Linked DNA regions of Homo sapiens: regions 1, 2 and 3 are each reported to be linked to region 4. The links are microRNA targets in miRTarBase. Many come from high-throughput screens and were not tested one by one. Region 4 holds a microRNA gene; each other region holds the end of a gene's coding sequence.
Evidence for each region. Region 4 holds the annotated microRNA hsa-miR-7-5p (UGGAAGACUAGUGAUUUUGUUGUU, at 1,426-1,449, opposite strand). A microRNA usually pairs through its seed, bases 2 to 8, with sites in the 3' UTR of a target mRNA and lowers its output. Matches are read on the target gene's strand: a 7mer-m8 pairs with bases 2 to 8, a 7mer-A1 pairs with bases 2 to 7 and ends in A, and an 8mer does both.

Region 1: the mRNA of RNF128 is a reported target of hsa-miR-7-5p. The part of its 3' UTR that is shown has no 7-base or 8-base seed match.
Region 2: miRTarBase lists KRT80 as a target of hsa-miR-7-5p. The part of its 3' UTR that is shown has no 7-base or 8-base seed match.
Region 3: the mRNA of GOLPH3L is a reported target of hsa-miR-7-5p. Seed matches in the 3' UTR shown: 7mer-A1 at 1,751-1,757.

The regions. Positions count from the first base shown.
Region 1 is chrX:106,795,191-106,798,348 of GRCh38, reverse strand. It overlaps RNF128 (ring finger protein 128), which reads right to left. Exons shown (of 7, transcript NM_194463.2): 7 at 1,333-2,769. The coding sequence ends at 2,636. Among named protein-coding and RNA genes, the nearest start is that of TBC1D8B, 5.9 kb to the left of the region's middle.
Region 2 is chr12:52,168,879-52,172,046 of GRCh38, forward strand. KRT80 (keratin 80) reads right to left here. Exons shown (of 9, transcript NM_182507.3): 8 at 2,780-2,835; 9 at 118-2,644. The coding sequence ends at 2,520. Among named protein-coding and RNA genes, the nearest start is that of KRT80, 22 kb to the right of the region's middle.
Region 3 is chr1:150,645,517-150,648,516 of GRCh38, forward strand. GOLPH3L (golgi phosphoprotein 3 like) reads right to left here. Exons shown (of 5, transcript NM_018178.6): 5 at 714-3,000. The coding sequence ends at 2,805. Among named protein-coding and RNA genes, the nearest start is that of ENSA, 17 kb to the left of the region's middle. RefSeq lists an enhancer at 1,349-1,850.
Region 4 is chr19:4,768,981-4,772,148 of GRCh38, reverse strand. MIR7-3 (microRNA 7-3) reads right to left here and starts at 1,479; the gene lies at 1,370-1,479. MIR7-3HG (MIR7-3 host gene) reads right to left here and starts at 3,044. Exons shown (of 3, transcript NR_027148.1): 1 at 2,798-3,044; 2 at 2,392-2,519. RefSeq lists a silencer at 2,318-2,612.

The DNA.
Region 1 (3,158 bases), not on the chromosome of region 4:
GAAAATGAACGAAATACTGTTATATGCTACAACATGGAGGAACCTTGAAAACATTATGCTAAGGGGAAGAAGCCAGTCACAAAAGGCCTATAATGTATGATTCCATTTATATGAAATGTCCACAATAGACAAATCTATAGAAACAGCAGATTGGTGGTGATGTGGGGCTGGAAATGGGAGGGGGAACTAACTGTAAATGGGCATGAGGGAATGTTTTGGGGTGATGGAGTGTTTTAAAACTGGATTGTGGTAATAGTTGTACATATCTACACATTTGCTAAACACATTCCAATGATATATTTACAATGGGTAAATTATACTTCAGTACAGCCGTTAAAAAACACTTAAAAATGCCCCCAAAGAAGTCCCACAAAACTTGAAAAGAGGTTAACTATCTAAGAATATAGGGCAAGAATACAGGCATCACACATCCACCCTCGTCCCCGGCATATCGTCACATAAGACACATGTACCTGGTTTGATAATCATAGTGCTGAGGCGTTCCAAGCATCTGTGTATTCTTAACATGCTTGACAAAAGAAAGATGCACTTAACTTATTAACAGCATCCTGACAATCACACTGACAAAGAGAAGTCTGAAGAAAAACTTTAAAGTAATAAAAGTTCCTCTGTCATGTATAGCATGAAGATGGACTGGCATCAAGGTCTATTTTAATGTTATATTATTACTGGTCAAACCCTTTTTACCTGGCTGACATTTAACAATAATTCATGGTAAGTTGAATGATACTACAATGGCATCCATTCCTCTCTATGTAATATGTAAATATATCATACTAATGTTTCAGTGTTTATTGATCAAATATATAAATGACCATTTATATCCAACCATTTTCTTATCTCCCAAATCCAGACATATTATATGAGAAAAATTAGTGTATGGACAGTGATAAGGTTTGGATATTTGTCCCTTCCAAATCTCATGTTGAAATGTGATTCTCAATGTCGGGGGTGAGGCCTGGTGGGGGTGATTGGATCATGAAGGTGGATCCCTCATGAATGATTTAGCATCATCCCCTTGGTGATAAGTGAGTTCTCACTCAGTTCATGCAAGATCTGCTTATTTAAGAGTCTGGGACCTCTTGCTTCTCTCTCTCTTCCTCCTGCTCTTGTCATGTGATGTGTTTCCACTTAGCCTTCCATCATGACTGTAAACTTCCTGAGGCCCTTACCAGAAGTGAAGCAGATGTTGGCCCCATGCTTACTATACAGCTTATAAAACCATGAGCCAATTAATCCTGTTTTCCTTATATATTACCCAGTCTCAGGTATTCCTTTATAGTGACACAAGAAACATCCTAATACAGATAGTTAAACTAACACCAGACACAAACTTTTATTGGAATATTTTATTTACATTTTATATTTAAAGAGAATCAATACAAATTGGGACATATTTACAGCATTTCAAATCAGTGTACAAGAATGCAATGGTTTCATCCATTCAGCAAACAAAAATACATGTCTGTTTTATTTTTGCCTAAATTCTGCTATAATTTGAACAAAATTCTAAAACAAAAGCCACACAGAGTACAAATAAAGTGCATTTTTAAATAGCTCTATTTAACTTTGGTGGATGAAGCTTCAAACTTTATATTAAGGCACCTGGAATTCTCCCCCCCTTCTTTTTCAAACACCAGGAAAATGCATTCACAAAATTTATAGTTACACGGACAGAATTTTAGTTTATCTAATGTAATTTTAGCCCATTTAGGTCAAACATAAACTCAATTTTCAAAGTAACATTGTTTGGAAAACATTTTCAACAGACTAATTTTACAGAACATTTTTTTTCTGTAGACTAATTCATGAACGAAGATCAATGACCAATATTAGTGTTACTTACTCTGTCATTAGCAATTTCAAACAGTATGATGATTCATATACTGAGCTTTTGAAAAATCCCACAAGTTTGAGAAATAGTTACACAGTATTTTTGTAAGGAATTTTTTGTCTAATCTTGTGTCAAGTTGATGTCACTAATATACCAATCAATTAAGTCCATAATCTCTGATAAACTATGGTTGACAAATCACATGAAGTACATTCAGCCTAATTTTAAAAATAAGAAAAAGTAAAAATGAATATTTTGCTTTAATCTTTTCTATTAACTTAAAGCAGCTTAAATAGACATTTCAAGAAGTACTCGCCTAAGTTTGCATTGCTTTTTACATTACAATTCCAGATCAATATAAGCACCTGGAGAAAAACCCTGACACATGTAGCCCAAGCTAAAGAAGTAGTATTTTTCATTAAGATACTATCATAAAATAAAGTGATTACAGCTACTCCACATTTTAAAAGCAACATGTTTTTATAAGAAAATTGTTATAAATGAAAAACGTGACTTCTTGAAGACAGTTTTGAATGTCTAAAAATGTTGTTATCACTACTGAGAGGAAACTTGCCTATGAAAAATATTATAATGAGTTTGTGGAAAAAAGTTAACAGGTTAAATATTTTAAGCCATTTAACTATAGCATAATATTAGTCATCTGAGCACTTTCAGTATCACTCTTATTTTATTAAATTTATCCAATTTATTAATAGAAACTAGGCCCTGATTGGCAGTTCTGTTATTACTAATGGTTCAAGTTTTCTATTTACACAGATTTTAAGATTTAATTTCTCGAACAGCAGTCTCTTGATTAGGAGTTTCGTCTTCTTCAAAGGTTGGGTTGTCAACATGAGGAATAACATCCACTGCCACAGAATTTGCTTCATGGTTTACCAGCTGTAGACTTTCATCTTTAAAAAGAAATAGCAATTTTAGGATGATTTTGCCCCTCTCCTCTTTTAAGACAAAATTCAACATTTACTTCCAAGAAGTCTTTCTTATTTAATTTCAACATACACTGATTACCATATTCATTCCCTGTACCTCTAATAATTATATGATTTATGCTATATCTTACATAAAGCACATATGGCATTATTATATTGATTTATAATTGCTTTTTTGATTCACGTACATGTGCTTATTTCTACCTAGATTATAGCCTCCTTAAGAGCAAAAATTATGTCTTCTACTTCTTCCTTACCTTAAATATAACAAGCTGTTAAATCTGGCTATACATTTCAATCACCTGGGCACTTAAAAAATTACCAGTGCTTCTTCATTCACATAAATATAGATA
Region 2 (3,168 bases), not on the chromosome of region 4:
TCCAGCCACTGCACTCCAGCCTGGATGACAGAGCAGGATTCTGTCTCACACATACACACACAGACACACACACACAGACACACACATACACAAAAGAAAGAAATCCCTGAGACTTGGTAATTTATAAAGAAAAGACATTTATTTTGGCTCACAATTCTGCAGGCTGTACTGGCATGGCACCAACATTTGCTCAGCTTCTGGTGAGGGCCTCAGGAAGCTTACAGTAAAGGCGGAAGGTGAAGGGGGAGCAGGCATATCACATGGCGAGAAAGAGGGGAGAGGTCTCAGACTCTTTTAAACAACCATATCTATGTGAATTGAGTGAGAACTCACTCATCACCAAGGAGATGGTGCTGAGCCATTCATGAAGGATCCTCTCTCATGATCCAAATACTTCCCACCAGGCTCCACTTCCAACACTGGGAATTACATTTCAACATGAGATTTGGAGGGGACGAGCATCCAAACCATATCAGATGGTGAGACAGGAGAACTTTGTGTGTACCAGCTGCACTGGTCTGAAGATATAACTAAGTCCCTGGACTTTTTCTCCCTTAATTGGAGAATTCCTAATGTTCCATGATCAGCCTGATTGACCAGTGGCTGACTGGTCCTGAGAGGGGAGATAAAAACAGACACACAGCTTTCTCCATAGACAAATCTCAACACTTTATTCATCCTGTGGCAGCAAGAAGGGGACATGGCCCCAAGATAGCCAATCAGGTGAGGTGGCTGGAGTATGTGTTATCTTTCCAGATAGTACATACAGACTGATCATGCAGAAACAGGAAGGGAAGCAATAAGTTAAAAGCCACATAAGTTATGAAAAAATAATATATACTTTATATGTCTTGTATCCCCACTGAGGATTTGCTCCCTTGGAAACCAATGAAGAGCCTGAGGAAAAGCACCAATCAGCACCCTCTTTTGGGACTTTGGGGATGAGAATCTCTGAGTTCCCATGGCCAGAGAGTCAGTAACCCTCCAGTGCTCCCCACAGGCCTGGAGGGCCTTGAGGCCTGGGATGGGCCCAGACCTCTGGCCAACATGTCCTGGCAAATGAGATGAATGAATCTAATGCAGTCTAGAAGAGGAGGTGAGGCAAGGGGCAGGGAGGGGAGAGGAGAGTGAAGGAGGGAAGGAAGCTGTGCAGTGGGAGGCTGGTGCCGCTGGGATGCCTCTGCAAGCCTCAGCATTGAGAGCCAAGAGGAGGAGATAGGAGTATGCCTGCCAACACCCCTGTCTTCTGGTGGGATGTGGAATTTTCCTCTCTGGTAGAACCCTTGTAAGGCTGTCATTTGGGCCCCACAGCTGGACCTCAAGGGCTTGGAAGCTCCCAGACTTGCCTGGACTGTGCCTTCTTCCTGGCCTGCTGGAGGCAGGGGGAGTGGGCATGGAGGGAGGAAGGGGAAGGAGTGAGAAGAAAGGAGGAGCTCTAACCCCATAGGTGTGGGGGGTTCCTGGGCTCCCCCATGAATGCCAAGGAGGGGAGGGCCAGGCTATTTGGCCCAGTGGAGAGGAGAACAGAGGCCCTGAGAAGTGAGATTCTTGGGAAGTGGGCCTGGGGCTTCACGGCAGGGGTGGGACCAGGGGTCTCCAAGGCCTGGTGCACCAAAGCCCGGTGCTCAGGCTGGGAACAACCCGGCTGGGGGCACAGAGCTCAGATCCAGGCTGGGTAGGACCCCAGCATGGCAGGGAGGTGAAAGGAAGATCGAATGCTCCTGCCCAATCTCAAGCTGCCATCTGGCTTCCACTCCCAGGGAGTTGATTATGGCAAGAGCAGCTTCCGGAGAAGCTGCTGGGAGCTGGCTGGGGGCAGCCCATCCAGTTCTGACTACTGCCTACTGGGAGGGACCCATGGGAGGAGGAAGGGATGCGGGTGTTCGGGCTGATCTCTGGGGCCTAGGCTTAGGTCCCAAATAGCCAGGGCCCCTCCTCCCTTCACTCCCTAATACTGTCAGGTCTCTGGGGAGCCCAAAGAGCACGGGAAAGCCAAGAGGGTCTTCAGCAGCCAGCCTTCCCAGGAATTCCAGATACAGGACAGGGCCCACGCCGTCCTCCTCGGCTCCCGCACATAGGTGGATGAGCCAGTCCCAGTCCCAGTTCCGAGGCAGAGACAAGGCAAGGCTTGAGATAGGAGTCAAGGTCAAGGATTGGGCAAGAGTCAGAGGGGCCTTGGCAGAGCCTGATGCTGGAGGAGGAGCCTCAGAGGAGCGAGGAGGTGGAGACAAAACTGACCCCTAATTCCGACTCACCCATCAGGAAAACCTCTGGCCAGAAGGTTGGAAGGATGGGACTGTGAGATACTGATATGGAGCGGAGTGGCTCTGAGGAGCTGGTGATGCTCCTCTCCCACCCTGGCAGCCCACAAAACACAGTCAGTTTTGAACCCCTCTCTCAGTTCAATATCAGGTTTTGCCTCTCTTCTCAACCTAGAGGCTCCAAGCTGCTTTCTTGAGTCTAGCTTAAGTCCCTCCTGCTGCAGTGGAGTGCCCTGGGGTTCCTGGGGTCCAGCCGCCTTACTCTGAGACCTCCGACTCCTGCGAGAAGTACTTCTCTGACATTTCGGTGATTTTGATCACGGGGCCTTTGCTGCCCTTCTTCTTTCGGGAGGGGGCCTTGGAGAGGCCTGATCTGGAGGCAGCTACAGGGAACATAAGGGGTAGGGGAGGGAAGGGGCTGGAGGTTTGGGAGCCACTTAAAATGATGCCTTTAGGATCATGATCCCCTACACCCTCACCCTCACCCCACCATGGGTTCTCGGGGCAAGAGGACTCACCGGTTTTGCACCTGGACTGCACAGCGCTGACCACAGTGGCTGAGGGCGAGTCCATCCTGGGGGTGGGGGACGGGGGGGTGGGAGAGGGATATGATGGGATGCGAAGAGAGCCTGTGGCTTAAACTCCCCTGGGGGCTGGCAAGTGGAGGGTAGTTCTTGGTGGTCACTCCCAGCCCTGGGGTTGCCCTGTTGTGTGGCCCTGGCTAGCCAGCTTGTCCTTCCTGGGCCTCTGTCCCATCTCCATGGCATAAATGGCTAATAGCATTGAGCACTGAGTTTTGACAGGCATTTGCAGGCATAATCACATGAATCATCCCTGCCACAGGTGAACCATGTTTATGATCAGCCCACTTTCCAGATGGGGAAACAGGATGAAATGAACTGGGCCA
Region 3 (3,000 bases), not on the chromosome of region 4:
GGCATGAGCCATCGCGCCTGGCTGAGAATTTCTTTAAAATGCAGCTTCCTCCTAACTCCAGAGACTGATTTACTAGGATCTGCATTTTAGCAAGCTACCCTCCTATCTCACACACACATTTTGGTGCAATGGTCTTTGCAATATACTTTGAGAAACATTGTATAAAGCATGACTTATGGAAATAGTACTTTGTCTTAAATAAAAATATTAGAAAAGTATAAACAATCCTAATAAACAAATGTATTATTGTCCCTTGTGCTATAGATAAAGAAAGGGAGAACAATAAGCCAATTATAAGCACACTTACATTTTTACATGTTAACTCTGTTATAGTCAGGCATGTCACCTACATTTGGAACTTAAGATTTTCAACTCCTAAATTCAGGTGTCATTTGCAAGTAGATATTAGTAGAACAGATCATATTCATTCTCTTCATGGTAATAATGGTATAATTGGCTAATTTATTTTGATTGAGATGGAGACACTATTTAGGCTTTATAGTATTAGCTGGTGTTCATGTGGTCAGCTTTTGACATGTCCTGCCCCTCAGCCTATGTATGTTACAATTGTTTTTGTATCCCTCATTTTCTACATAGGATAAAACAAGCTGGTATGCTAGTGTAAAGGGGGAGGCATTAATAGCCTTGTGTAGAAAGTCCTTAGTTCCAATTAAAACAATTTAAATTATAAAATTGTGCACAGAGAGACCAGAGAGCTGATAATTGATCTTTATTATACAGAAATGTGAAGGCCATAAGCATTAAATGAGAAGGAGTTTGGCAGTGAACATTATGCAGATTCAAACTGAAGGTATCCTCGTCTTACTGAGATATAAAAATAAACACTAAGAGTTGCAAGAAAGAACTCAATTCAACTTCTATCTCCCAATCAAGCTATAACTTTCCACAGGAAAACCTGGTTTCAATTCATGCCGAATTGTTCAAAGAAAAGAAAAAGCTAAATCAGTTAGAGACAACACATGGACTGGCTTTTGTCCTATTAGAGAGCCAGACTGAAGCTGTATTCAGCCTCACATTTAGAGACTGTTTCCTATTACAATTTATATCTCTATTTGCCTAAGAGATACCTAAAGTGAAAAACAAAAAAATGTTAACTGAGCTGGGGCATTTTTGTGGGGCTAAGTAGATTTGGCAGAGGAGAGAAATGAATAAATAATTCATTTAATTATTTCTAATCAAGAGGATTTAATGTCAGGTCTGGGTCATCTGTATTAACCCTTTGACAGTTTGTTGTTCTATAATGGTCAAGAAGCACTATCCCATTAAAGTATAATAAATGCTGAACATCAGCACAGCTCAGTGCACATCCTCTTTATATCCTCAAATACTGGACTTTATATCAGCATGCTTTCAATACCAAATTAGCCCTTTAAATAGGATCTTTCTTAATAAAGCTTCTCATTGCCCTCACTACTGAAGTAAAAAACGTGTTAGAGATTTGGCCAGAAAGATGGTTTTACTGAAATAAGACTGATGACTAGGAGCACATCTATGGATTAAATATAGACAAAACTACTCCCAGAAACCTTAAATATAGACAGACTTTATTAATTTATGTAGGAAGCCAAAAATAGGAAATAAAAAGATCTGGAGTTCAGATATACTGATATATTCAGCAACTGAAACTTACAATTCCTTCAATTCAGTCAGAGCAGAGACATTTAAAGTAGTCTGGAGGGGTGGGTGCAGTGGCTCAAGCCAGTAATCTCAGCACTTTGGGAGGCTGAGGTGGAAGAATTGCTTGAGCCCAGGAATTCAAGACCAGCCTGGGCAACAAAGCGAGACTCTTGTCTAAAACAAACAAAAAAAAGCTGAGTATGGTGGCACGTGCCTGTAGTCCCACTTAGTTGGGAGACTGAGGCAGGAGGATCCTTGAGCCCTGGAGGTCAAGGCTGCAGTCAGCTGTGATTGCACTACTGTACTCCTGCCTGGGCAAGAGCAAGACCCTGTCTCAAAAGAAAAAAAAAAAAAAAGTGGCCTGGGGGAAACAGGACAGTCATATACCCCAAGAATGGAAATTTTCATGCCACCCCCCTTCCTTCCTTACAAATTCTAATGCTGATTGCATGAACGAGGTGTTGAGAGAGACTTTTCTTCATTTAGACATTTGCCCTAGTGAATGAGGGAGCAAGAGAATGCTAAGAGGGATGAGAGAATATATTTCTGGCTCTAGGACTTTGACATCCAGGTAATTGAATCTGGGACATTCTCATTAGGTTAGAAAAGGAAAGATGAGAAAATCACTAGCAGGATATGCAATTCCAGAGACCATCTGCTCCAAAAATTAGTTTTGTTTCTCATTGCTCCTTATTCAGCGACAGTTATTTCAATAAGCTACATTATTTAGCAGAGTCTGAGAGACAAAGGCTGTGAAAACATGTATTTATGATAGAAAACAAACTCAGAAAAATATAATAGATAGTTCACTTTTTATCTCATTCACATTCTATAGCTGGAGAACTCAAAATCCCATTTAGATATTTCTGCTTATCCAAAAGCACACTGGGTGAAACTAAACCACCAAATGGGAGAAAATGTTCATTGGGTGTGTGTGGCTTCACCCAGTTTATTTACCTATGGAGTGGAAGTGTAGGGAGAAATAAGGTCTGCTTATAATGGTCAAGGTCTATGGAGAAGCCCTGAAGTTGCTCTCCCCAAATCACAAGTCTGATTCAAGAAAAGGAAACAAAAATGATGAAAACATCTCATCACACAAAACTCAGTGATGGGGTCTCTGACAGTCACCAGCCAGCAGGGGAAAAGGAGAAATCCACCTGCCGGCTTTAAGATTTATTGAAGGCTGCCAGCACAGCCCAGATCATTTCTGTGGCACTAGGCTTTGTCCCTTCCACTTCAGGGTCCAGTTCTACTAAGTCCTTGGCTCGATTCATTGCCACATCATACTTGTCATCTGTCAGAGAGGAGAAGACATTCTCTAGCACATCAGAGGAGTGGGCTAGCACCAGGAGTGCTAGTGTT
Region 4 (3,168 bases):
AGGCAAAAGCCCTGAGGCTGGAGAACAGGTAACCATGTGCAGTTTTTCACTTGATTAGGGTGTTGCAGAGAATTGGGAGTGAGTCTTATATATTTATTTATTTATTTATTATTTTTTACTGAGATGAGGTCTTGCTATGTTGCCCAGGCTGGTCTCGAACTCCTGAGCTCAAGCTATCCTCCCACCTTGGCCTCCCAAAGTGCTGGGATTACAAGTGTGAGCCACCATGTCTGGCAAAGGTGGTGAGCCTTTATGATGTCATAAGTCACCACTGGGCACAAGTTCACACTTGTCCTATGATTGGCCCATGACACTGATGGGTAGCAGACAGGAAAGGAATCTTTTCTGAAACTTTTTTTTTGAAACAGGGTGTTGTTCTGTTGCCCAGTCTGGAGTGCAGTGGTGCAGTCATGGCTCACTGCAGCCTTGATCTCCCAGGCTCAAGTGTTCCTCCCACCTCCTAAGTAGTTGGGACTACAGGCATGTGTCAACTCACGGGGTCTCACTATATTGCCCAGGCTGGTCTCAAACTCCTGTACTCAAGCAATCCTCCCATCTCATCCTCCCAAAATGTTAGGATTACAGGTATGAGCTCCCACACCCAGCCCACTTCTGGAACTTTTATTGAAAAGTATCCTTAGGCTGGGTTCGGTGGCTCACACCTGTAATCTTGGCACTTTGAGAGGCTGAGGCAGGAGACCATGTCTTTACAAAAAAGAAAAAAAAAATGTTTTTTGAGACAGAATCTCTCTCTGTTGCCCAGGCTGGAGTGCAGTGGTGCAATCTTGGGTCATGCAGCCTCTGCCTCCTGGGTTCAAGGGATTCCCATGCCTCAGCCTCCCGAGTAGCTGGGACTACAGGTGTGTGCCACAACGCCCAGCTAATTTTTGTATTTTTAGGAGAAATGGAGTTTCACCATGTTGTCCAGGCTGGTCTTGAACTCCTGGCCTCAAGTGGTCCACCTGCCTTGGCCTCCCAAAGTGCTGGGATGACAGGCGTGAGCCACCCGGCCAAAAAAATAATAATTTTTTTTTTAATAGAAAAGTACCCTGAGAACTCTGGTCTAGGGAGGGCTTTAAATGTCATTCCCTCATTGGGTCTCCCAGGAAAGCGCCATAAGGTGGTTAGAGGTCTTGGGTTTAGAGTCAGGTATGTTCTATCTCCAGGCTTGTGGGGGCGTACGAGTGATGTGACAAACCCCATACATGGTGCATGGCTGTATGAGCACAGGATGTATGTCCTTGTTTGCTTCCCTCCTTTGCCTGTGCCTGTATCGCCTGGAGTGAGCCAGCCCCCCCACTCCGAGTGGAAGCGATTCTTCCCCGACCTCCCCGGTTCTCCCCCACTGGCCAGCCCATTGAAGGCGAAGGTCGAAGGGAGTCTGCGCTATGAGGCCGGCTGTGACTTGTTGTCGTAGTACATCAGAACAACAAAATCACTAGTCTTCCACACAGCACTAGACCACAGCCACTCTAATCTTCTTCACCACCCTCTGCCCCATGTCTGAGACCCCTGCCCAGCTCCTCCTTCTCACCTGAGCCAAGCTATGACACCTGAGTTTCCTGCCTCTGTGCTGCCTCCCTGTTTTCCATTCCCGGTTCTCCTGGAGAGAAGCAGGGTCTGATCTCCAAGGGCCCACCTCCCACCCAGGCACGTCAGAGACATGGGATTTGGAGTTGGACTGGTGGGGTTGACTTACAGCTTCACTTGTGGGCTGAGAGTCCCTGCGTGGGTTATTTTTCTGCCTTTCTCAGGGCCTTGGGTTCCCCAAATGTCACATGGGCACAGTAACACCCATGTCCTAGGGTTGAAGATGGCATGATATGATGTATGTAAAATGCTTGGCACAAGGTTTCTCACCGAAGTCTGGAAGAGACACCATAATGTCATCTTAGCAGGCAGCTGTTACCCCAGTGAGGTATCTTACCTGTTGAAAATTCCGGACTTGGGCCAGGCGCAGTGACTCACGCCTGTAATCCTAGCACTTTGGGAGGCTGAGGTGGACGGATGAAGAGGTCAAGAGTTTGAGACCAGCCTGGCCAACATGGTGAAACCCCGTCTCTACTAAGAATACAAAAATTAGCCGGGAGTGGTGGCATGTGCCTGTAATCCCAGATACTCGGGAGGCTGAGGCAGGAGAATCCCTTGAACCCAGGAGGCAGAGGTTGCAGTGAGCCGAGATCGTGCCACTGCACTCCAGCCTGGGCGACAGAGCAAGACTCCGTCTCGAAAAAAAAAGAAAATTGCAGACTTCTGTGTGTGCTTATCTGGAAAATACTTTGTTTAAAAATCCATTACATGAGGTGCAGGTCTCCAGAAATGCCAGGCACCTCAGACCACCCTCTCTCGTCCTCCCCCTGCAAAATCAGGGTCAAAGGGCTCTCCCGTTACCTGGAGGAGCTGTCCAGGGTTCTGGAGACGAAACGGAGCCCGCTGGGAACTGTCCTGAGCCCCGGTGCTGAAACAGATCGCGGTTCTCTTCTCGGACCTCCCGAGAGGCGCTGTCCGGATATTTGGTGCTGAAATAAATAGCATTCTCCTCCTTCGGTCGGTGGAGAGCTGTCCCTCGTGCTGAAGAAAACTTGATTTTCCTCTCTCTTTCCCCGTTCCCCCACCCCTCTTCGTTCTCGGTTCCTCCGATTCTTGGGAAACCCCACCCCCACTCAATTTATTTCCCCTCCTAGCTTCTTCCTGGGGAGCTTCAGAATGGCAATGGGGTGGCGGGGGGGAGACACAGAGGGGTCGCAACTAGCACTGATACCTGCTCCTCACCCTGTACCATGTCCCCAGAACTTACCTCCCAAGCAGTCAGCCCTGCTGGTCTCTGCTTTCCAGACCGTCAAACTTCGCCGTCTCTGTCCCTTTCTGGGAAAATGTCCATGCGCCAACCTGCAAACCAGCCTCATTCCCGGCATCCCACGTCCCTCAGACCACCCCTCCTCCCACGCAGCTGCGGGCCTCCCCCTCTGTGTGCCTCACCTGCTTCCAGTCTTGTTGGCAGATGCAGGTGTCCCGTGGCTGCCGAGGCGGGGACCTGCGCTTTTATAGGCTTCAGGGAAGGCGGAGCGCCAGGAATCCTGGGAGGGGCTTCCCCAACTGGCCAATGGGATTCCGCCTCAGAATGAAGCTCCAAAGATTACCTCATAGGTTGTGGCCCACGCTTCAGAA